2 separate regions of the Homo sapiens genome follow, and region 2 is linked to region 1. The links come from fine-mapping of genetic effects on gene expression. A gene starts in region 1. The other region holds a variant in brackets. All regions are shown on one strand. Distances are between the middles of the regions.

Region 1 (11,973 bases):
CAAACAAAAGCCGAGGTCCCAAAGGCGCGGACTCTGGAGAACCTGCTGAATTGACAGATAGGGTGGTATGGGCAGGCAAAATCAGAATGCCACGACCACGACCCCGAAGTTCTTGTTTCGGGTTTTTGGACTCCTGCTTCTCAGAGCCTTTGCCCCCACTGCTCAAGCCTTTGTCAGGCTTTCCTCTATCCATATCATCCCTGGCTGACCTCACCATGGGAGACTCTTTGTTCATGGCTTCTGCATCGAAAGTGACACGAAGAGTGCCTCGATATTCTTTAGCACTGTTTTTCTGCTCACCCTCCCCACGGCCAGACCAGTTTCTTTCTAAATGTCTCTTCCTTTCTGAACTTCTCCTGGGTCCTAATCCATCAGGCTCATCAATTCTGTCCTCGTCTAAGGAATCGGTTGAGGACACAGACACTTGCTTCTTCAGTCGTGGCCTCTCCTTGGTCCTATCCTGTCGGCGGCGGCGACATCCATTATCCGTCAGGCCAGCTCCCTCAGCGCTGTTGTTGCTGCCAGCTGAGCTGGTGCTGCGCGTGCGGTAGCGATTCCTTCGTTTGTCTGAGCGGGAGTAGCGCTTTGCGGAGCCCGGCCTCCCGCGGGCTGGGTCGTCGTGGGTTTCCCTCACCCCCTCCCCTTTTCCCATCCTCTTTCCTTTTTCTCCTTTTGCAGCCCCTACTCTCCCACCACCTGGGCTCTTTTCTATCTCAGCCCTGTCTGGTTTATTCGCAACTTCCTCCTTCGCAACATTTCCCCTACACTCATCTTCCTCTACTCTCAGTTGTTCTACCTGGTTGAGGACTTCTTCCTCCTCCACCCGACTGGCGGATTCTTTGCTAACAGTCTGCAAACGTCGTCCAGGCTGATAGATCTGCAGGTCGGGTTTCTTTGTTCTTTTGATAATTTTTAGACTACGATCCTCTTGTCCAGCAGTCCTAGGAAAGGATTCTTGTCCCCGATTATTTTCTGGGTCTATAGGACCATTCTGCTCTTGGTTGTTCAGTTCCTTGCAGACATCTTTAACGGGCTGTGTACCATTTTCAACAGCAGAGCAATCTCGGTCATTAACAATTTCATCTTTGAATTCCTCACTCCCAGGGGGTTCCTTGATTTTGGGCTTGTTCCTTAGCCGAGAAAGGCCAGGCTTATAGATTTCCAGATCTGGACGCCTGTTATCTTTGCGCGGCCTGGCCTCCTTTAATTCCTTCATGTTTTCTGTTATGTCGGGGAAAGAGTTTGGGAGGGAAAGGTAGAAGATAAGAATAAAGAAGGAAGATAGGGGAAAGACTGTCATTCTGGTTAAGTAACAAAAAAAGTCGAGCAAGAATTACATATCCAAATGCTAATACTGGTAGGCAAAGAAGGACATTTCTGTAGAAGCAGAAATTCTGGGTTTACAACACTTGTTCAACAATTCACAAGGCTAAGGACCTAACTGTGTTGGGGCTACCTACACTTGGGTAAGTGAAATGGGGGAAACCCATCTCCTTATGTGTCATCCAAGTCATATTCAGAAATCCAAGATCCCAAACTACCTCATTATTGTCAGAACAAAAGACCTCTCTAACCTTTTCAGCACTACACTGTTCTCTATCTATAGAGCCTGTGAATCCACCTCAGCCTTTTCTTCCGCCTCTAACTTTTTCCTGGGTGGCTAAGTTCTTTTAACATAACAGCAGGAGGAAGAAGTAAAAAAGGAGAAAAAGGAGGGAGGGTATTATAACAATTATCAGTCCTGGACATCTCTGGAGAAAAAAAATGCAACTTTAGTCTTTAAACTTGACCAGGATGATTCTCTTCTTCAAGATACCAATTACCAAATAACATACCTGCTGGTGAATTAAACAGCAAGCAGTTCTTTTCCCATTCTTCAACTTCACCCATCCTCACCAACTCACTAACAGTAGCTCACAGAGTTACCAAAATACTGCTCAGACTATCATACTAGAATACTGACACTAACTGCTACTGTGATGATGGAATTATTAGAAAAAAGTTCCATAAGGGAACTTTCCCTGGATGCTGATGGAAAGATTGTGACATACTCTCAAAATGCCAACAACTGGGAACTCAAGAATTAAGAATAATACAGGACTTTAGAAACCACTCTCGGCCGGGCGCGGTGGGTCACGCCTGTAATCCCAGCACTTTGGGAGGCCGTGGTGGGTGGATCACGAGGTCAGGAGATCGAGACCATCCTGGCTAACACGGTGAAACCCCGTCTCAACAAAAAATACAAAAAATTAGCCGGGCGTGGTGGTGGGCGCCTGTAGTCCCAGCTACTCGGGAAGCTGAGGCAGGAGAATAGCGTGAACCCAGGAGGCGGAGCTTGCAGTACGCGGAGATCGCGCCAGTGCACTCCAGCCCAGCGGACAGATACTTACTTAAGTATCTGGTTTTTTAAAAAAGTATCTGTTACCGTTATCAAAAGTAACCACTAAACATTACAATGGAAAAGTGACAGAATTCGGGAGAATATTATCAAGTACACAAATGGAATGCTATATAAAATCCTAGCATAGGCCAGGTGCAGTAGCTCACGCCTATAATCCCAGCACTTTGGGAGGCTGAGGCGGGAGGACTGCTTGAGGCCAGGAGTTCGAGATCAGCCTGGGCAACATGGCAACACCCTGTCTCTATAACGTATACAAAAAATAGCCAGGTGTGGTGGTGCAGGTCTGTAATTCCAGCTACTCGGAAGGCTGAGGTGGGAGGATCACTTGAGCACAGGAGGGGGAGGCTACAGTGAGCTGAGATCCCTCCACTGCACTCCAGCCTGGAAGACAGAGTGAGACCCTGCCTCAAAAAAATTGGCCGGGCACGGTGGCTCACGCCTGTAATCCCAGCACTTTGGGAGGCCAAGGCGGGCGGATCACGAGGACAGGAGTCCAGACCATCCTGGCCAACACGGAGAAACCCCGTCACTACAAAAATACAAAAAATTAGCCAGGCGTGGTGGCACACGCCTACAGTCCAAGCTACTGGGGAGGCTGAGGTAGGAGAATGGCGTGAACCCGGGAGGCGGAGGTTGCAGTGAGCAGAGATCGCGCCACTGCACTCCAGCCTGGGCGACAGAGCTAGACTCCGTCTCAAAAAATAATAATAACAACAATAAAAAAGTTTTTAATCCTAGTATTGCTCTCTAAATATAAATGGAAACAAGCCCAAAACAGGAATCATATGCTCCAGCAAGTACATTTACTGTTTGTAGGTGTAAGGAAAAGGGGAAGAAAAGAGACTGAGGTTTTGGATAGTGCTTCACTATTTTCATAAGTTTAAAAGGTAGGTTCATGAAGTATCCACAAAGATAAAGCAGTTTAACCCAAGAATAGCTCACCCTCGGCAGTCTGTAACTTGGTGGGGGGCGGGGGGATGGGGAAAGCTATTCCTACTACTTTCTAGAGCAGCGGGAGAAAATAGCCTTAATAATCCAATTATGTTAATCAACAAAAACCAATTTCACAGACTGGCCGCAAACCTAGAGAAGGCACCTATCACAGCTACCATTCTACACAACTCTATTGCCTAACGCAGGAGAGGTGAGACACTTAGAATCTTTCTTACTTTCCTGACGTGGCTGGAGACTTGAAATTAACTTGCAAATTGAGCATTCTCTCTAATAAAAACTGCTCCCACACATGCCAGGGCCAAACCCGAGTAGTCTGAGGTCCCGGATCCCTCCAGTGGCGCAGCTTTCGGAAGCCTGTCTTGGGGGGGAAAAGTTCAGCAACGAAGTCGCAGGCTCTTAAACCTTTCTCCCCAATTCCTTCTCTCCGACGTTAAAGCGGTGGCCGGGGCAGGCCCGCGGAGGGCGGCCTGGAGAGCGATACGCCCGGGGCCTCCACCAGACCCCACTCCTTTCCGCGTCTCCCGATGCCTGGGAATCCGGGGCGGGTCTGAGAGGGCTGGGGCAAAAGGAACAGTCACCTTCGCGGCGAGAAAGAGGGTGGAGGCAGGAATTCGGGCCAGGCTCTCCCGGAGCTGGCCAGGACTGGCCGAGCCCGACCCCGCACTAACCCGCGAGAGAGGTAGGGCAGCGAGGGTCCGCCGCGGCCCCAGCGCCTACTGCTGGGGGAAGGGGCGGGGGCTCCGGAGCCGAGGGCCGAGCGGGGAGGAGGCAGAGGAGGAGGAGAGGGAGGCGGGGCGGGCAGGCCCGGCCCAGGAGCTGGGCGGCGCGACTCACCTCTGCTCCCGGCCTGCGGGGCCAGAGTAGCCAGGATCCCGCGCAGCTCCGACGCGGAGATCCGCACACGCTCCAGCCCTTCCGCCATCTTCGCGGCTGCTGCTACAGCCGTAGCGGCTCCGCCACCGCCGCGCGCAGCCAGGAAACCACCACAGACGGGCGGCGCGCGCGCTCGCCCACCTCCCGGCCTTTCCCCGCCCCCTGCCGCCCTCCCTTTCCGAACGACGGTGGCCGCGCTGGGAGGAAAAGCGCCCGCCGCCGGTTCCAGAGGGGCGGGACCGGAGCGAGAGCCTGGGTGGGGCGGGCGGGCGCTGCGCGTGCGCAGAGGTGCGGCCGGGGAGGCGCGCGGAGGCTGGAGCTGGAGGCGCGGCGCCGGTGAGCTGAGGTGAGGCGAGGCCGGGCCGTGCCAGGCCAGGCGGGCGTTTGCGGCGGTGGCTGCCGTTGCTGTTGTCGTGGACACCAAGGACACTGCTAGTCTGGGACTCGGGTTGACAGAGACACCCCTCAGCCTGGGCTCCTCTGGACACCTTAGGCCAGGCTCTCCCGCCACAGGCCCGGCCTAGCGCCGCGGGCCATTACTTGGGACCTTGAAGATCTGCTAAGAGTAGTTGTTACTATTCCCTTTTTTTTTTAGTTGGAGTCTCGCTCTGTTGGAGACTCCCGGGCTGGAGTGCAGTGGCGCGGTCTCGGCTCACTGCAACCTCTGCCTCCTGGATTCAAGCGATTCTCCTGCCTCAGCCTCCCTAGTAGCTGGGATTACAGGTGCACGCCACCAAGCCCGGCTAATTTTTGTATTTTTTGTAGAGACGGGGTTTCACTAGGCTGGTCTCGAACTCCTGACCTCAGGTGATCCACCCGCGTCGGCCTCCCAAAGTGCTGGGATTACAGGCGTGAGCCACCGCGCCCGGCCGCCCCCTGACTTTTAAAAACTAGATACGATATAGTTGGAATCGTGTGGAAGGAAGTACATCAGGAGGCATATAAGTCCATTTGGGACCTGTAATCCCGGCGACTCGGAACGCTGAGACGGGCGGATCGCTTGAACCCGGGAGGCGGAGACTGCAGTGAGCCGAGATCGCGCCACTGCACTCCAGCCCGGGAGTCTCCAACAGAGCGAGACTCCGCCTCAAAAAAAAAAAAAAGTCAATTTGGGAATTTCTGTGTCACTATGGATTCTTGAAAAAAATTACTGCTGTGGATCTCAGGTTGACTTTTTAATTTCCCATCTTTAAAATTGAACTATACCAGAAGGCTGGTACTTGAATCTTTTTTTGGAGAACTGTACAGAGGTGAAGCTCCCTTCCCCAAGGCCTCCTGCCTCCACCTGTTGCCCCTCCACAGCCCCATAGGCTTTTACCCCACACCCATCACAGAATAGTTACCAATTATTCCTTAGTCTGAGCCGAAGGGATTGCCACAACCTCTGACAGAACTCCTTCAGTTCCTTTTACGTGACACTTTGTCACCGGAAGGTTAAGCATAAGAAGAAAGTCAGTAGATGATGGGTGAAAAGATCCAACAGTTCAGAAGAGGAACCATTTGAGTGGTCAGAGCAGAAGACAGCCTTTGCCACCAGATTTGAGAGAAATAGGAAGAAGCGTTAAAAAATAATCTGTTTCATATTGAAATTTGAGAGGCCATTGCATGATTTCTTTTTTCAGCTGGAAAAATAATGGAAAACAAGAAAACTTTCTTAGGACAAATGGCACCACCCATTTAATGCAACAGTGTCAGTGAACTGCAGATTAGATATGCCAAAAGTTAAACCAGTTCAAGAAAATTTACCAGAACTCAGAAGGAAAAGGTAATAGATAAAAACTGAGAGACAAAGATAGGAGACATGGAGAAGGGGTACAAAAAATTAATAATTAAATACGAGTTCCAGAAGGGGATAATACAGCTGACTGCAGAAGAGCAATAATCAAATAGTAGAAGAAAATTTACTACGTTGGTGGAAATTTTTGAATTATCAGATTTAAAGAATTCATGAAATACCAGGTAAAAAGAAATGACAAGAAAGACAACCATATTTAAGTCAGTATCACAATGAAAGCTGCTGAGATTTTTTGTTTTTCGTTTTTTTTGAGACGGAGTTTCACTCTTGTTGCCCAGGCTGGAGTGCAGTGGCACAATCTTGGCTCACTGCAACCTGCCTCCTGGTTTCAAGCAATTCTCTTGCCTCAGCCTCCTGAGTAGCTGGTATTACAGGCGCCCACCACCATGCCCAGCTAATTTTTTGTATTTTTAGTAGAGATGGGGTTTCACCATGTTGACCAGTCTGGTCTCGAACTCCTGACCTCAGGTGATCCACCCGCCTCAACCTCCTAAAGTGCTGGGATTACAGGCGTGAGCCACCGCGCCCAGCCTTGAATTCAGTTTCTAAAAGTAAAAATTGTACAAGTTGGCCGGGCGCGGTGGCTCACGCCTGTAATCCCAGCACTTTGGGAGGCCGAGGTGGGCAGATTGCCTGAGCTCAGGAGTTCCCAACCAGCTTGGGCAAGATGAAACCCCATCTCTACTAAAATACAAAAAAATTAGCTGGGTGTGGTGGCGGGCACCTGTAGTCCCAGCTACTTGGGACGCTCAGGCAGGAGAACTGCTTGAACCTGGGAGGCAGAGGTTGCAGCGAGCCGAGATTGCTCCACTGCACTCCAGCCTGGGCGACAGAGTGAGACTCCGTCAAAAAAAAAAATTGTACAGGTCATATTTACTTAGCACAAAGTAATAAAACTAGAAGTGAATAGCCACAAATGAAGCAAAACATTCTAACCATTTGGAATTTTTTTAAAAACAACAATTTTAGGCCAGGCCCCGTGGCTCATGCCTGTAATCCCAGCACTTTGGGAGGCCAAGGTGGGCAGATCACTTGAGGTCAGGAGTTCGAGACCAGCCTGGCCAACATGGCGAAACCCCGTCTCTACTAAAAATACAAAAACTAGCCGGGCGTGGTGGTGGGTGCCTGTAATCCCAGCTACTTGGGAGACTGAGGCAGGAGAATCACTTGAACCAAGGAGGTAGAGGCTGCAGTGAGCCGAGATCACGCCACTGCACTCCAGCCTGGGTGACAGATAGAGACTCTGTCTCAAAAATAAAACAAAACAAACACTTTCCACCCATGGACACCGCCAAGTCTAAGTCAGAGTCTCCTAAAGAGCTCGTACAGCTGAAGAAGCTCTTCATTGGAGGGCTGAGCTTTGAAACAACCAATGAGAGCCTGAGGAGCCATTCTGAGCAATGGGGAACACTCGCGGACTGTGTGGTAATGAGAGATCCAAACACCAAGCACTCCAGGGGCTTTGGATTTGCCACATATGCCACTGAGGAGGAGGTGGATGCAGCCACGAATGCAAGGCCACACAAGGTGGATGGAAGAGTTGTGGAACCAAAGAGAGCTGTCTCAAGAGAAGATTCTCAAAGACCAGATGCCCACTTAACTATGGAAAAGATATTTGTTGGTGGCATTAACGAAGACACTGAAGAATATCACCTAAGTGATTATTTTGAACAGTATGGAAAAACTGAAGTGATTGAAATCATGACTGACCAAGGCAGTGGCAAGAAAAGGGGCTTTGCCTTTGTAACCTTTGATGATCATGACTCCGTGGATAAGACTGTCATTCAGAAATACCATACTGTGAATGGCCACAACTGTGAAATTAGGAAAGGCCTGTCAAAGCAAGAGATGGTGAGTGCTTCATCCAGCCAAAGAGGTCAAAGTACTTCTGGAAACTTTGGTGGTGGTCGTGGAGGTGGTTTCGGTAGGAATGACAACTTTGGTTGTGAAGGAAATTTCAGTGGTCATGGTGGCTTTGGTGGCAGCTGTGGTGGTGGTGGATATCGTGCAGTGGGGATGGCTATAATGGATTTGGTAATGATGGAAGCAATTTTGGAGGTGGAAGCTACAATGATTTTGGCAATTACAACAATTAGTCTTCAATTTTTGGACCCATGAAGGGAGGAAACTTTGGAGGCAGAAGCTCTGGCCCCTATGGTGGTGCAGGCCAATACTTTACCAAACCACGAAACCAAGGTGGCTATGGCGGTTCCAGTAGCAGCAGTAGCTATGGCAGTGGCGGAAGATTTTAATTAGGCAACAAAGCTTAGCATGAGAGGAGAGCCAGCGAAGTGACAGGGAAGCTACAGGTTACAACAGATTTGTGAACTAAGCCAAGCACAGTGGTGGCAGGGCCTAGCTGCTACAAAGAAGATATGTTTTAGACAAATACTCATGTGTATGGGCAAAAAACTCGAAGACTGTATTTGTGACTAGTTGTATAACAGGTTGTTTTAGTTTCTGTTCTGTGGAAAGTGTAAAGCATTCCAACAAAGGGTTTTAATGTATTTTTTTTTTTTGCACCCAAGCTGTTGATTGCTAAATGTAATAGTCTGATCGTGACACTGAATAAATGTCTTTTTAAAAAAAAAAAACAACAAAAAAACCACCAATTTTAAATAATTCATGGGTCAAAAAAGAAAACAAGACTAAAATCTTGGATTATTTAGAAATTATAATAATGAAAATATTGCATAATGGAATCCATGATATTAAAGCACTTCTCAGAGGAAAAATCCTATAAGTAACCTTATATGCTTTCTTTTTAAAGTGAAAATTAGTAAGCTAAGCATTCAACAAATATAGAAGACAATTAAAGGAAAATGGCAGAGTAAACAATCAGAAATAAGGGAAAAAGAGCTGTACTTTAAATAGATTGAAAAGCTCATTCTTCAGAAATAAAGCAGATACTAATATACACACATTTCTGGCAAAAAATAATTTTTAAAAAAGGGACATCCTCTTGGATGTTTCATAAACAATTCAAACTTAGCTAATCAAATCTGATTTTCCTGTCAAATACTTATTTCTTCTCCTGTTTTAAATCTCAACAAATTGTACCACCATTTAAGTCAAAACCCAGGAGTTACTCTTTTTAAAGAAAAATTTTTGGCTGGGCACGGTGGCTCACACCTGTAATCCCAGTACTTTGGGAGGCCGAGGTGGGTGGATCACAAGGTCAAGAGATCAAGACTATCCTGGCCAATTAGCTGGGCATGGTGGCACGCTCCTGTAATCTCAGCTACTTGGGAGGCTGAGGTAGGAGAATCACTTGAACCCAAGAGGCAGAGGTTGCAGTGAGCCAAGATCGCACCACTGCACTCCAGCCTGGTGACAGAGTGAGACTCCATCTCAAAAAAATAAAAATATTGGCCGGGTGTGGTGGCTCATACCTGTAATCCCAGCACTTTGGGAGGCTGAGGCAGGTGGATCATCTGAGGTCAGGAGTTCGAGACCAGCCTGACCAACATGGTGAAACCCTGTCCCTACTAAATACAAAACATTAGCCAGGTGTGGTGCTACATGCCTGTAATCCCAGCTACTTGGGAGGCTGAGGCAGGAGAATCGCTTGAATCCGGGAGGCGGAGGTTGCAGTGAGCTGAGATTGCCCCATTGCACTCCAGCCTGGGCAACAAGAGCGAAACTCCATCTCAAAATAATAATAATAATAATAATTTGTAGAGGCAGGGTTTCCCTGTGTTGCCCAGGCTGGTCTCAAACTCCTTGCCTCTGGCAATCTTCCCACCTTGGCCTTCCAAAGTGTTGGGATTACAGGTGTGAGCCACCAGGCCTGGCCCAGGATTTATTCTTCACACTTCTCTCCCCCATTCAATCCACTATCAGGATATGTCTCTTCTGTTCCTATAATGAACATGTATGGAATCATCTCCCCAGCATTCTCCCCTTTATTTTCACTTGGAAAATGCCCCTTACTCCCACTCAAAAGTACTTTTTTCTTTTCTTTGTTTTCTTTCCTGTGTCACTCCTTTATTTTGCTATTTTCCCCTCAGGTGCAGAGAATTGAGCCAGTCATACTCGTTTATTCACACTGTCATTAACAAGCCCTTTCTCATTTTATCTTTTCTCTTCATTCCAGTTCCCACTAATGTTCCTTTCCTCCCTCCTTAGGTATTCACTCTAATGTGTTTGATATATGTCTTTGAATATACATGTATCTTTGAATAATATGTAATGTTTTATGTATGTATGTGTTTTAAATGTACCTAATTGATACTGTGTTACAGATCTCATTCTGTTTCTTTTTCATGTTTATGTAAATACTTCTGACTATTGCACACTGTTATCTTCAGTGACCTCATACCCTGGCCACTGGTCCTGGGCCAAGATGGGCCAGAGTCCTTACCCAGAATTTTTTTAACTGAAACTGAGAAAGAAAATTCCCCTTCAGTGTGGAAGCCATAAAATGTAAAACATACGAGCTGTCAGCAGCCACGTGTCAGTTGGTTCCATATGGAACCAACTCGCCTGTGTGAAAAAGAAGCCGACGTGCAGAAAGCAGCAGAGGTGAGAGACTAAGAGTCTGGGAAGCTGTCAAATCTCTGGTTCCAGTAGTTCCTGAAGCTCCATATTCCTCCCCTTACCATGGTTTGTTCATTTCTTCATGGATTCCATGAGCTAGTAAATCTCAACACCTCCACCTTGTGCCTACTAAGGTAGTACAAATTGAGGTTCTATCACTTGCAACTAAGAGGACTAACTGTTTACAACCTCCAAAATATATCTTATTTTTGATAGTGGGTTTTTTGTATTCTGGGTTTTGTTGTTGAGAGACAGGGTCTACATGTAGGAATGGAATCGGTAGATCATAGGATGATTCTATGTTCAATTTTTTGAGGAAGCACCATACTGTTTACTGTAGAATTACCACTACAGGCGCCTGCCACCTGCACGGCTAATTTTTGTATTTTTGGTAGAGATAGGGTTTCAACGTGTTGCCCAGGCTGGTCTTAAATTCCTGAGCTCAAGCAGTCCGCCCACCTAAAGTGCTGGGATTACAGGTATGAGCCACTGCATCCTGCCAAGGGGGCATAATTGACATTTATTCATAAAAATATTGAGACTTCAGGCCTGGCATGGTTTTTTGGGATTTTTGGTTGTTGTTTTTTTTTTGAGACAGAGTCTCACTCTGTCGCCCAGGCTGGAGTGCAGTGGAACATTCTCGGCTTACTGCAACCTTTGCCTTCCAGGTTCAAGCGATTTTTCTGCCTCAGCCTCCCTAGTAGCTGGGACTACAGGCAAATGCCACTACTCCTGGCTAATTTTTTTGTTTGTTTGTTTGAGACAGAGTCTTGCTCTGTCACCCAGGCTGGAGTGCAGTGGCATGATCTTGGCTCACTGCAAACTCCGCCTCCCGGGTTCATGCCATTCTCCTGCCTCAGCCTCCCGAGTAGCTGGGACTACAGGTGCCCGCCACCATGCCCGGCTAATTTTTTGTATTTTTAGTAGAGACAGGGTTTCACCATGTTAGCCAGGATGGTCTCGATCTCCTGACCTTGTGATCTTCCCACCTCAGCCTCCCAAAGTGCTGGGATTACAGGCGTGACCCACCACGCCCGGCCAATTTTTGTTTTTTTAATGGAGACGGGATTTTACTATGTTAGTCAGTCTGGTCTCAAACTCCTGAACTCCTGATCTCAAGTGATCCACTTGCTTTGGCCTCCAAAAGTGCTGGGATTACAGGCAAGAGCCACCACGCCCAGCCAACTATTTTTTGTTCTCTTGTTTTTTTGTTTTTAAGAGACAGGGTCTTGCTCTTGCAGTGGTACAATAACTCACTGCAGCCTTGAACTCCTGGGTTTAAGCAATCCTCCTGCCACTGTGCCCAGCCGAGGGGGCATAATTGACATTAAAAAATATTGAGTTTTCGGGCCCGTCATGGTGGCTCACGCCTGTAATCCCAGCACTTTGGGAGGCCAAGGTGGGTGGATCA
Region 2 (11,973 bases), 39 kb after region 1:
TATAGTGAAACCCCGTCTCTACTAAAAATACCAAAATAAGCCAGGGGTGGTGGTGCGTGCCTGTAATCCCAGCTACCCGGGAGACTGAGGCAGGAGAATCGCTGGAACCTGGGAGGTGGAGATTGCAGTGAGCCGATATTGTGCCACTGCACTCCAGCCTGGGCGACAGAGTGAGACTCCGTCTCAAAAAAAAAAAAGTTTACCTTAGCTGAGCCGTAATTAGAGTTTCAGGGTTGGGGAAGCGTCTGGACTCTCATAACATCCTGGAAAGTGGACAGGCGCGGTGGCTTACGCCTGTAATCCCAGCACTTTGGGAGGCTGAGGCGGGTAGATCACGAGGTCAGGAGTTCCAGACCAGCCTGGCCAAGATGGTGAAACCCCATCTCTACTGAAAAAAACAAAAAATACAAAAATTAGCCAGGCACAGTGGTGGGCACCTGTAATCCCAGCTACTCGGGAGGCTGTGGCAGGAGAATCGCTTGAACCCAGGAGGTGTGGTTGCAGTGAGCCAAGATCGAACCACTGCAGTCTAGCCTGGGCGACAGAGCAACTCTCCGTCTAAAAAAGAAAGCTGGGCATGGTGGCTCACGACTGTAATCCTAGCACTTTGGGAGGCTGGGACGGGCGGATCACGAGGTCAGGAGATCGAGACCATCCTGGCTAACACGGTGAAACCTCTCTCTACAAAAAATTAGCTGGGCGTGGTGGCGGGCGAATGTAGTCCCAGCTACTTGGGAGGCAGGAGAATGGCATGAACCCGGGAGGCAGAGCTTGCAGTGAGCCCAGATCGTGCCACTGCACTCCAGCCTGGGCGACAGAGCAACACTCCATCTCAAAAAAAAAAAAAAAAAAAGTCCCGGAAATCTCTAGATGGTTCTCATGCGTTAGCCATGGCCTGGCTACTAGGCCCTAATGTTTGTTCCCACCCCTCCCCTTGGTAAAGATGTAGTTGAAGCCATCAGCTTTCCCGCTTGTGGGAGAAGCTTCATTATGTCTTTGCTGTGAAGAGGCCCAAAAAAGGATTTCTTAGGCCAGGGGTGTATCAAGTCAGCATTTAAGCCCAATTCTGCTCTCCCCAATGAAAAGAGAAATCTTGATTCTCCTGCAAAAGGAAGCAGTCTAGTGACAGAGACTTGAACAGTGTAAACAAAATAGAAAAGTACTTGTGTCTACACTTGAGGTGGATATGCTGGGATTATAGATATGGCTCAATTTTGGAGGTTAGTCACAGATAATGGGAAATACTTTTTTTTTTTTTTGGAGACGGAGTCTTGCTCTGTCGCCAGGCTGGAGTGCAGTGGTGCGATCTCAGCTCACTGCAACCTCCAGCTCCTGGGTTCAAGCGATTTCCCTGCCTCAGCCTCCCAAGTAGCTGGGACTACAGGCACATGCCACCACACCCAGCTAATTTTTCGTATTTTAGTAGAGATGGGGTTTCACCATGTTGGCCAGGATAGTCTCGATCTCCTGACCTCGCCTTGGCCTCCCAAGGTGCTGGGATTACAGGCATGAGCCACTGCGACCGCCAGGAAATATTTTTTAAGAGGATGATGACTTTTTCCACCAGTGCTTAGAAACTGGACTATACTGCTCCAAAAGTGATTCCTAAGAAAATGTGAGAAATGTCAGAATATGCCACAGCTACGTATCATTCCTGACAAAAGTTGACCTGCTCTGAACTCATGTTTCTCCTTTCCTCCTTCAGTGTTTGATTTCTTTTTTTTTTTTTGAGATGGAGTCTCGCTCTGTTGCCCAGGCTGGAGTGCCGTGGCGCCATCTCAGCTCACTGCAAGCTCCGCCTCCCGGGTTCACGCCTTTCTCCTGCCTCAGCCTTCTGAGTAGCTGGGACTACAGGCGCCTGCCACCACGCCCGGCTAATTTTTTGTATTTTTAGTAGAGACGGGGTTTCACCATGTTAGCCAGGATGGTCTCGATCTCCTGACCTCGTGATCCGCCCACCTTGGCCTCCCAAAGTGCTGGGATTATAGTCGTGAGCCACCACGCCTGGCCCAGTGTTTAATTTCTACAGAAACATCCTGTCCCTTCTGCAAGGAAAAACAACAGGAATATTGGTAGACCAGGCTGGCCTTTCACAAAGGACCACTGGTATAATTCTAGGGGTATCTGCAGATCCTTCAACCCAAAAATCCTCCCCATCAGCCTGCTTCAGATGCCTCCAGGTCTTTAGCTGTGACATTATCCTCTGTTGAATGCTAACATCCTTGGGAGGTAATCTAGGAAGTTTTTTTTGTTTGTTTGTTTGTTTTTTTGAGATAGAGTTTCACTCTTGTTGCCCAGGCTGGAGTGCGATCTCAGCTCACTGCAACCTCTGCCTCCGGGTTCAAGTGATTCTTCTGCCTCAGCCTCTTGAGTAGCTGGGATTACTGGCACCCACCACCATGCTTGGCTAATTTTTGTATTTTTAGTAGAAATGGGGTTTCACCATTTTGGTCAGCCTGATCCTCCCAAAGTGCTGGGATTACAGGCGTGAGCCACCATGCCCAGCCGTCTAGGAAGCTTTTAACAGCTTAGAGTGCATTTGCATTAATTGATCTGATCCCCTTTTACCTGAGCACTAACCATTAGCAGTTTCCGGCAGGGAGGGGCCTCCAGGTCCTTCTTCCCGCCTCCCCAGGCTTTTGAGGTTCTACCACCCTCCAAACTATACAGTCTTGACTAAGGGTCTTGGGAACCTGGACAGCATCAGAACATTACATTCCTGTCTAAAGAATGGGGAAGACTAGCTCTACCCAAGGCTCACTTTATGTGTAACATTCTGCACTAGGTAATCTCTATAATCTCCAGTACTAGGACTGCCTGCTAGCAGGTTCTCCCAGGACATCAACAGAGTTTGGGTTAAATGTTGGGAACCACCAGAACCTCATACATGGGAGTGTAAAGTGGTATAACCAACTTTGGAGAACAATTTGGCAATATCTAATAAAGTGTGTGCATCAGACATTCCTTGCCTAGAAACATAAATCCCAAACATTTGTTCACCAGAAGACAGTCCTCAATGTTCACAGCAGCAGTATCCATAACAGCCCCAAACTGGAAACCACCCAAACGCCGGGTGTTTGTACGTTCACACCACGGAGAGTGAACAACCTACAACTGTACACAACGCGCACGGAGAATGAACAATCTACAGCTATACACAACATGAACAAATTTCAGAATGACACAGGTGAGCAAAAGAAACTAGTCACAAAACACTACACGCTGAGTGATTCCACTTATAAAAAGTATAAAAACCCAGGCCGGGTGTGGTGGCGGCTCACACCTGTAATCCCAGCACTTTGGGAGGCCAACGCGGGTGGATCACCGAGGTCAGGAGTTCAAGACCAGCCTGGCCAACATGGAGAAACCCCGTCTCTACTAAAAATACAAAAAAAAAAAAAAAAGCCAGGTGTGGTGGTGCATGCCTGTAATCCCGGCTACTGTGGAGGCTGAGGCAGGAGAATCTCTTGAACCCGGGAGTTGGAGGTTGCAGTGAGCTGAGAACGCGCCACTTCACTCCAGCCTGGGCAAAAGAGCGAAACTCCATTTCAGAAACAAACAAACAAAAAAAGTATAAAAACCCACAAAACTGTCGTGTTGGAATCAGGAGAGTGGGTACCCTTAGGGGGAATAGTGACTAGAAGGGAAGGTGATGAGGCGAGGGTGTTGGTCACATGTTCTGTTTCTTGCTCTAGTTGCTGATTTCACAGGAGTGTTCAGTTTGTGAAAATTCACCACGCTGTGTAATTGTGATATGTTCTTTTATATGTTTACTGCACATCAGTTAAAAAGATTTCTTTTTAAGTGCTTTCTTAAAGAAATGACTGAGCACAGTGGCTCACGCCTGTAATCCCAGCACTTTGGGAGGCCGGGCGGGTGGATCACCTGAGGTCAGGCGTTCAAGACCAGCCTGACCAATATGGTGAAACCCCATCGTTACTAAAAATACAAAAATTAGCAGGGCGTGGTGGCATGCACCTGTTGTCCCAGCTACTCGGGAGGCTGAGGCAGGAGAATCGCTTGAACCCGGGAGGCAGAGGCTGCAGTGAGCCGAGATCACGCCACTGTACTCCAGCCTGGGCAACAGAGCGAGACTCCATCTCAAAAAAAAATGACTGTTTACCTTACAAGGTATTTGGGAACTTTTACATCCAGGTGGGAACCCCAAACATCAGAGTTCTAGACCCTAGATGGAAAGAAGGCTGGGCTTTTGAGCATGTAGAGGGTGTCCCTGAGGTATGAGACCTACCCCTAACCTTGGAGAATAGGGAGAAAAGGAGGAGGGGCAGGTTGTTTATCTGCAGGCTGTACCGAGATGGTTTGTCTCTAAAGGACAGTATATCTGCCCAGAAGCCCTTCGTGAGCTGAGAACAGATGAGCAAACAGCATCCTATTCCTGTTCTCCAAGGCAGGGCACTTCCACCTGGGCTGGAACATGCACTGATTGTTTGATGGGTTTTTGGCATCTCTTTCCCTGGTTTCCCCTCCAAAAGACTGGAATCAGACTGTGCTGAAGAAACTTTGCTTCCCCACACCTTTCATCCCTGTCATCTCTGCAAGTGTCTGAAAGTGCCCTTCAGACCAGAAGGGCGGAACCAAACTATTTATTTGCCCAGAGGTCTTTGATAAGGGAAAATAATAAAAGCAGTGATGCTGTCCATGTGTCCGCAGGTGAAGCAAATCATGGAGGAGGCTGTCACCAGGAAGTTTGTGCATGAAGACAGCAGCCACATCATTGCTTTATGTGGTGAGTGAGTGACTGAAGGATGATGGGAGGTCGGTCTAGAGCCGAGGACACTGGCCTGGGGCCAGGAAAAGATGAGTCCTCAGGTGCAGTAGCTCTCAAATCTGGCTGCAAGTCCAAATCAACCTGGAAGCTTTTGAAATCCTCTTTGGCCCCATTTGCAGACCTACTAAATCAGGTTCTTCAGGGGTCAAGAATCTGCGTATTTTTTGTTCCCCAGGATAGTAATTCTCACATTTTAGCATGTATCAGAGTCACCTGAAGGGCTTGGTAGAACACAGATTTCTGGGTCCCAACCCTGGAGTTTCTGATTCTAGTAGGTCTGGGGACCCCACTTTGAGAGCCGCTGCCCTAGGTCATTTGAGTTCAGGAACCAGTGCTCTGACTGATTTTGATTTTGACTTCAGGGAGGGGTTTGTGCTTTTCGGATGCTCTGTGCCACTTTCCCTTTGTTTCCCACCCGTGTTGCTCCATGATCCTAACCCCAAGCCCTTGACTGGATGCAAAGGAGCCTGAGCGTGGGCTAGGAGAGGTGGCTAAGGCTTCCAGCCTCAGAAGGGACTCTCTCATCACCTCCTTCTCAGTGTGGCCAAGCCTTCCAGCCCCAGAAAGGAGAGAGTCGCTTATAAACCATTTCCGCCTCCTCAGCCTGAAGACTTTTGCTTTGTAGGAGCAAGCCTATCCCTACGCACAGACTCTTCTTGGATTTCTAGGAATTTCAGCTTCCTCTCAACCCCCCATCTGAAGGGACAGGGAACCATTCACCTTCTCTGTGTTGTATTCCTTGGCCTCTGAGATTGGTGTTGGGGTTTGTGGAGGGAAAATAATGAAAGAACAGATAAGGGAAGGGATGCTTTGGACGGTAGTGTGGCACAGCAGATACAGCTGCCCTTCCCCTCATCCAGCAGCAGATCCCCACCAAGGGCTCACCAGGTGCCAGACACCGTTCACCGTGCAAGGAAATGGCAGTGACAAGATGGACAGAGTCTCTGCCGCAGGAGCTTACATTCTGTTGGGGAGACAGACAGGAAACAAATGCGCAAGTAAATATGTCATCCAATAACTTGGCA[T/C]GTGATAAGAGCTAGGAAGAAAAAACATGTGGGAGGGCAGTCGGAGAGGCAGCCTCTGAGCAGAGTCTGAGTGACAGACTGGGGTTTGAATCCTGGCGTCCTGCCTTTTAAGTCGTCTTGGACAAGTTTCTTAACTTCTCTCACCCTCAGTTTGCTCCTCTAAAAACAGACTGATGATTCCCACCTCAAGGAACTTTCGTGGGGATTGAGATGATGTGTGTAAATGTTCATTCGTTCGTAGCATTGTAAGCACTCAAAGAATATTCGTCTCTCCTCCTTTGGCTGTTGAGGCTGAAGGTAGGTTTGTAGGACTTGAGTTCATACCATGTCCGTTTGGGAAGGTTTCCCCAGTTCTTTGAGATGGTGGAATAATGATTCCTAGGTTTACAAGACACAGCCTGACCTCAGTTTTTCTCAGCAGAACCTATGCTCTGGAAAAAAAAAAGGCATGCCAGTATTATGATAAGCAACTTTGAAGAGTATTAGAATTCTCGGCCGGGCACAGTGGCTCACGCCTGTAATCCCAGCACTTTGGGAGGTGAGGCAGGTGGATCACCTGAGGTCAGGAGTTCGAGACCAGCCTGGCCAACTTGGTGAAACCCCGTCTCTACTAAAAATACAAAAATTAGCAGGGCGTGGTGGCGGGCGCCTGTAATCCCAGCACTTTGGGAGGTGGAGGTGGGCGGATCACGAGGTCAGGAGATCGAGACCATCCTGGCTAACACGGTGAAACCCCGTCTCTACTAAAAATACAAAAAATTAGCCAGGCGTGGTGGCGGGCGCCTGTAGTCCCAGCTACTCAGGAGGCTGAGGCAGGAGAATGGCGTGAACCCGGGAGGCGGAGCTTGCAGTGAGCCAAGATCGCGCCACTGCACTCCAGCCTGGGTGACAGAGCGAGACTCTGTCTCAAAAAAAAAAAAAAAAAAAAATTCCTACTTTTTAAATACTGACAGCTAATTCCCATTTAAAAAAAAATTGTGTGGGCCACACAAAAGACATCTGCCAGCCTCTGCCAGTGTGCAGCCTCTGTTTTGGGTTCGGTACAGTCACGGAGAACAGGAGCAGGAGAGGTTCCAACAGTATCGGGCTAAGTCAGGCCAGGGTATCTCAGGGCCTACAGACAGAGAAATCCTTATGCTTTGTCAAAATTGGTGCTCAGTGGTGAGCTAAATCCCAATTTGGGCTGAAACTGAGGCTCGTTGAAAGCATTGATTATCAACCTTTTTCCTCTGCCTGCAAAGCAGCTTCCTTGCATTGCATGGTGGAATCACGAGAGACTCTTGCGGGGGACGGGGAGGGAAGACTAGCAAGGTATGGATCAAAAACACCACCCCTCTCTGCCTTTTTGGAGATTCTGATGTGCCAGTCTCCCTCAGTCCCTGGAAAAATGCTCTGAAATGCATTTTTAGTCTGAAGTTGATCCAGACTTAAACTGTGCCTTGCTACTGTCCTAGCCACGTCCGAATTCAGCTTTGTTGTGGGAGAAATGGGAGTATAGAGAACGTGCTGAGAGGTCAAGAGCAGAGTGAAGTCTGTGGAGACTGGATTACCAGCCTAGCGACACCACGGTCCCTAGTTTCAAGGGACCCTTGTGTACTGGGCCCCTCAACTCCACACCGACCCATGGTTCTTGGCAGAGGAGGGTTGGGGGTGACTGAGGAGAGCCAGGCCTAGGCAATACAAGCTTCTCTGAGCTTCTTAGAATGCAGACATTTAAACAGAAAACACAGAGCCTTCCTGGAGAGCCTTCCTGAAGAATCACTGTGTCAAGACCTGACCATGGGCAAACCCAGGAAAGTTTGCAGCCAGATCCCCATTCCTGTTACCCAACGGGAGGGGCAAGACTCCTAGGACTGGCTAGAAAATTGCTTTGTTGAGTGTTTGCTGTGGTTGTTCCTAAACCTGTCTGTCCAGAAGCTGGACATGCAGTAGGCCCCTGCGAGTAGAAACTTTCCTTGTGTGGAAGTTTTCGCTGGCAAACCAGTCTGGCGGCAGCAGGGGGGTGGGTGGGGTTCTCTGTGTGCTGTTCCCAGGCCCGAGGATCAGAACCTATGTAACTGCCACCTCCGTGCCAGTGGAGGGTGGCGCTAGGAGAATGGACTCAAAACTACCACTATGGGGCCAGGCATGGTGACTCACACCTGCAATCCCAGTGCTCTGGGAGGCTGAGGCGGGAGGATCCCTTGAGACCAGAAGCTTGAGACCAGCCTGGGCAATATTACAGGATGCAGTCTCTACAAAAAAATAAATAACTCGCTGGGCATGGTGGTGCACGCCTGTAGTCCCAGCTACTCCAGAGGCTGAGGTAGGAGGATCACTTGAGCCCGGGAGGTTGAGGCTGCAGTGAGCTATGATTGCACCACTGCCCTCCAGCTTGGGCAACAGAGAGAGAGAGAGACCCTGTCTCGTTTGTTTGTTTATTTATTTATTTATTTAGAGACGGAGTCTCACTCTGCTGCCCAGGCTGGAGTTCTGTGGTGCTATCTCAGCTCACTGCAACCTCCGCCTCTCAGGTTCAAGCAATTCTCCTGCCTCAGCCTCCTGAGTAGCTGGGATTACAGGTGCCTGCCACCACACCTAGCTAATTTTTGTATTTTTAGTAGAGACAGGGGTTTCACCATGTTGGCCAGGCTGGTCTCGAACTCCTGACCTCAGGTGATCTGCCCACCTTGGCCTCCCAAAGTGCTGGGATTACAGGTGTGAACCATCACACCCGGCCTCATTTTTTTTTTTTTTTTTTAAACAAAATCCAAAAACTACCACTGTTGGGGAGAGGTCTTTGATATATCCTTTTATCCTTTTTATCTTAAAACATCACATCAAGTTTACATTTTTCTCTATCATATGGTTTTTGGATTTTTTTTCATTTTAATATAAAGACTTACTGTTGAATTAAAGTATAGGCTGGTATCTCCTGTCGCCCCCTCCCCTGGAGGGGAAGGTGCTTTTGTTTTTTCTTTTTTTTTTTTTCCAGATGAGGTCTTGCTATGTTGCCAAGATTGGTCTCAAACTCGTGGGCTCCAGGTATGCTCCTGCCTTGGCATCCCAAGTAACTGGGATTACAGGTGCATACCACCGCCCGAGGTCCATAGTGTTTTATTTACCCTATTCCGATTGGGCACTGAGTTTGCATTTTAACCTTTGGCTGGTAGAGCAGGTTTCAGAGGCTCACAGAGAGGCTTCTGGCCAGGCAGAGCAGGTTCTCAGGCCAATCATATCTCCCAGGACCTCAGCCTCCCCACCCCCCAGGGATTGGGGCAGACACCAGCCTGCCTCCTCAGTCACCAGATTCCCTGCCCTGCTGTGTGCAAGTGGGTCAACATGAGGGTTGCTTCAGACTGAGGATGAGCTGTAATTCGAGAAGGGTGGAATCTGTGGAGCCGGGAATAACATCAGGCTTTATTAACCAGCTCCCTGTTGCTAGGCAGCTTTCATTAGCCAGGAAGGTCTGCCCTGCAGTGAGCTCCTTCAGGGAATGGCAAGGAGATGCTAATAAGCTGGGAGAGAAGCCGGTGCTAGGGAAGGCTTGCCTCTCCCCTGGGATATTGCAGCCAGCGATATTTCAGCACATTCTGAGATTTGGACTCCAGGCAGTCTTCAGCCTGTCTCTTTTCAGTAAAAGGGATTCCTGGAGGCTGAGGTGGGAGGATCCCTTGCAGGAGTTCGAGACCAGCCTGAGCAAAAAAGACCCCATCGCCACAAAAAGGAGGAGCGGGTTCCTCCTCCTTCCCACCCACAGGGAATGAATAGCTCATTCTCTTGCTATCTAACTCGTGCCTTCCATCTAGAAATGATCTAAGAGGAAGGAGGGAGCTCTGAAGGAGCTGACTCCCCTCACTCTATCTTGGGGCATTGCGGAGGGCATATGGGGATGTTCATAGCTGGGACTTTGGGGTCACACAGACCTGGGTTCACATCCTGGCTGTGCCACGAAGTGTGTAGCCGTGCTTACTCATCTCTGAGCCTACCCCAGAAGGCAGATGTAAGGAACAGAAGAGCAATGCAGGCAACACACACAGCATGGATCTGAGTATGCAGAAGGTGCTCAATCGCATTCTACTTTGGTTTTTATTTTGTTTTGTTTCGTTTTGTTTGAGATGGAGTCTCACTCTGTCTCCCCGCTGGAGTGCAGTGGTGTGATCATAGCTCACTCAGCCTCGACCTTCTGGGTTCAGGCGATCCTCTCACTTCAGCCTCCTGAGTAGCTGGGTCTACAGGTCTACGCGCCACCACACTCGGCTACTTTTTTGTATTTTTGTAGAGACGGGGTTTCGCCATGTTGCCCAGGCTGGTCTCAAACTCCTGACCTCAAGTGATCTACCCGCCTCGGCCTCCCAAAGTGCTGGGATTACAGGCATGAGCCACCACCCCACCCCACATCTGCTTTGTTTTTGAAAGGGAGCATAGGCCGGGCACAGTGGCTCACGCCTGCAATCCCAGCACTTTGGGAGGCTCAGCTGGGTGGATCACCTGAGGTCAGGAGTTCGAGACCAGCCTGGCCAAAATGGCGAAGCCCCATCTGTACTAAAAATACAAAAATTAGCTGGGCATCATGGTGCACGCCTGTAATCCCAGCTCTTTGGGAGGCTGAGGCAGGAGAATCACTTGAACCTGAGAGATGGAGGTTTCAGTGAGCGAGATTGTGCTGCTGCACTCCAGCCTGGGCGACAGAGCGAGACTTGGTCTAAAAAAAAAAAGTGACCTTACAACCTTTCCTATAAAGCCTCCTCGAGCCTTCCCCAGGATTCCATCTGGGAATCTGTGTTTCTGGAAGTTTGGAGCATCTGGAGAATCAGAAATTTGAACATCAGGAACTCAATAAGGAAATTTGATAATATAAAGGAATTGTTACCAATTTTGTCAGTGTAATAGAGGTATAAGTGCATGTTTTTAAGAGTCCTCTTTCAGAGATAAATATATATGATGTCTAAAATTTGCTTCAGAATAATCCAGTGGTAGGAAACAATGGTTGCAGGCGGAGGAGCTGAAGCAAGATGGTCGTGACTTGATCATTGTTGAAGCTGGGTAATGAGTACATGGGCAGCTGTTATACTGTCCCCTTTTCCTTCTGTATATGGTTGGAATTTTCCCTAGTGAAATGTTTTGTTTTTTTTTTTTGAGATGGAGTCTCCCTCTGTCGCCCAGGCTGGAGTGCAATGGAGCGGTCTTGGCTCACTGCAAGCTCCGCCTCCCGGGTTCACACCATTCTCCTGCCTCAGCCTCCCAAGTAGCTGGGACTACAGGCGCCCACCACCACGCTCGGCTAATTTTTTGTATTTTTAGTAGACATGGGGTTTCACCGTGTTAGCCAGGATGGTCTCAATCTCCTGACCTCGTGATCCGCCCACCTCGGCCTCCCAAAGTGCTGGGATTACAGGCGTAAGCCACCACGCCTGGCCTAATTTTTGTATTTTAGTAGAGATGGGATTTCACCATGATGCCCAGACTGGTCTCAAACTCCTGACCTCAGGTGATCCACCTGCCTCGGTCTCCCAAAGTGCTGGGATTACAGGTGTGAGCCACTGCATTTGGCCTAGAATGTTTATATTCACATGGGAAGTATCTAATAGGGAAAAATTGCAGGCATAAAAAAGAGAAGAGAAGTTTGCTGGAGGAGCGTCTTTGAAAAGGTGCAAGGGAGGTGGGGTGCGGTGGCTCACACCTGTAATCGCAGCACTTTGAGAGGCCAAGGCAGGTGGATCACCTGAGGTCAGGAGTTCTAGACCAGCCTGGCCAATATAGTGAAACCCTGTCTCTACAAAAAATACAAAAATGTGCCGGGTGTGGTGGCGCACGTCTATAATTCCAACTGCTGGGGAGGCTGAGGCAGGAGAATCGCTTGAACCCAGGTGGTGGAGGTTGCAGTGAGCCGAGACCGTACCACTGCACCACTGTACTCCAGCCTGGGCGACAGAGTGAGACTCTGTCTCAAAAAAAACAAAAAAACAAGACATAAGAAATGGTGCAGGGGCAGCACTCCAGCCTCCAGCGTGCCGGTGGAAGGTGACCTCAGAGACAAGTCCAACTAGACCATCCCTAGGAACGAGAGGAAGGCAGGGACTGGGCATGAGGTGCAGGGAGGGAAGGCACCTGCATTCATCAGTCCCCTTCGGTGTGGTAGGCAGGGGCCGAGAAGCCTTTCACACCTTGGGATATGCT

Alleles and levels. Alleles are on the strand shown, and positions count from the first base shown. SD is a standard deviation of normalised expression in the study named.
With allele C in place of T in region 2, the expression in sun-exposed skin of the gene that starts at base 4,342 in region 1 is higher (small effect, 0.14 SD a copy in GTEx).

Evidence for each region. PIP is the estimated chance that this variant, and not a neighbour inherited with it, causes the effect.
Region 2: its variant is fine-mapped to the expression of SMG6 in sun-exposed skin (GTEx, PIP 0.93).

The regions. Positions count from the first base shown.
Region 1 is chr17:2,299,444-2,311,416 of GRCh38, forward strand. SMG6 (SMG6 nonsense mediated mRNA decay factor) reads right to left here and starts at 4,342. Exons shown (of 19, transcript NM_017575.5): 1 at 4,190-4,342; 2 at 1-1,221. The coding sequence starts at 4,277. SRR (serine racemase) reads left to right here and starts at 4,507. Exons shown (of 8, transcript NM_021947.3): 1 at 4,507-4,574. It also overlaps the pseudogene HNRNPA1P16. RefSeq lists enhancers at 2,600-3,414, 3,744-4,470 and silencers at 3,972-4,181, 4,372-4,591.
Region 2 is chr17:2,338,874-2,350,846 of GRCh38, forward strand. It overlaps SGSM2 (small G protein signaling modulator 2), which reads left to right. Exons shown (of 24, transcript NM_014853.3): 2 at 4,672-4,747. Among named protein-coding and RNA genes, the nearest start is that of SGSM2, 7.4 kb to the left of the region's middle. RefSeq lists an enhancer at 8,833-9,770. The variant T/C (reference allele first, on the strand shown) is at 5,815.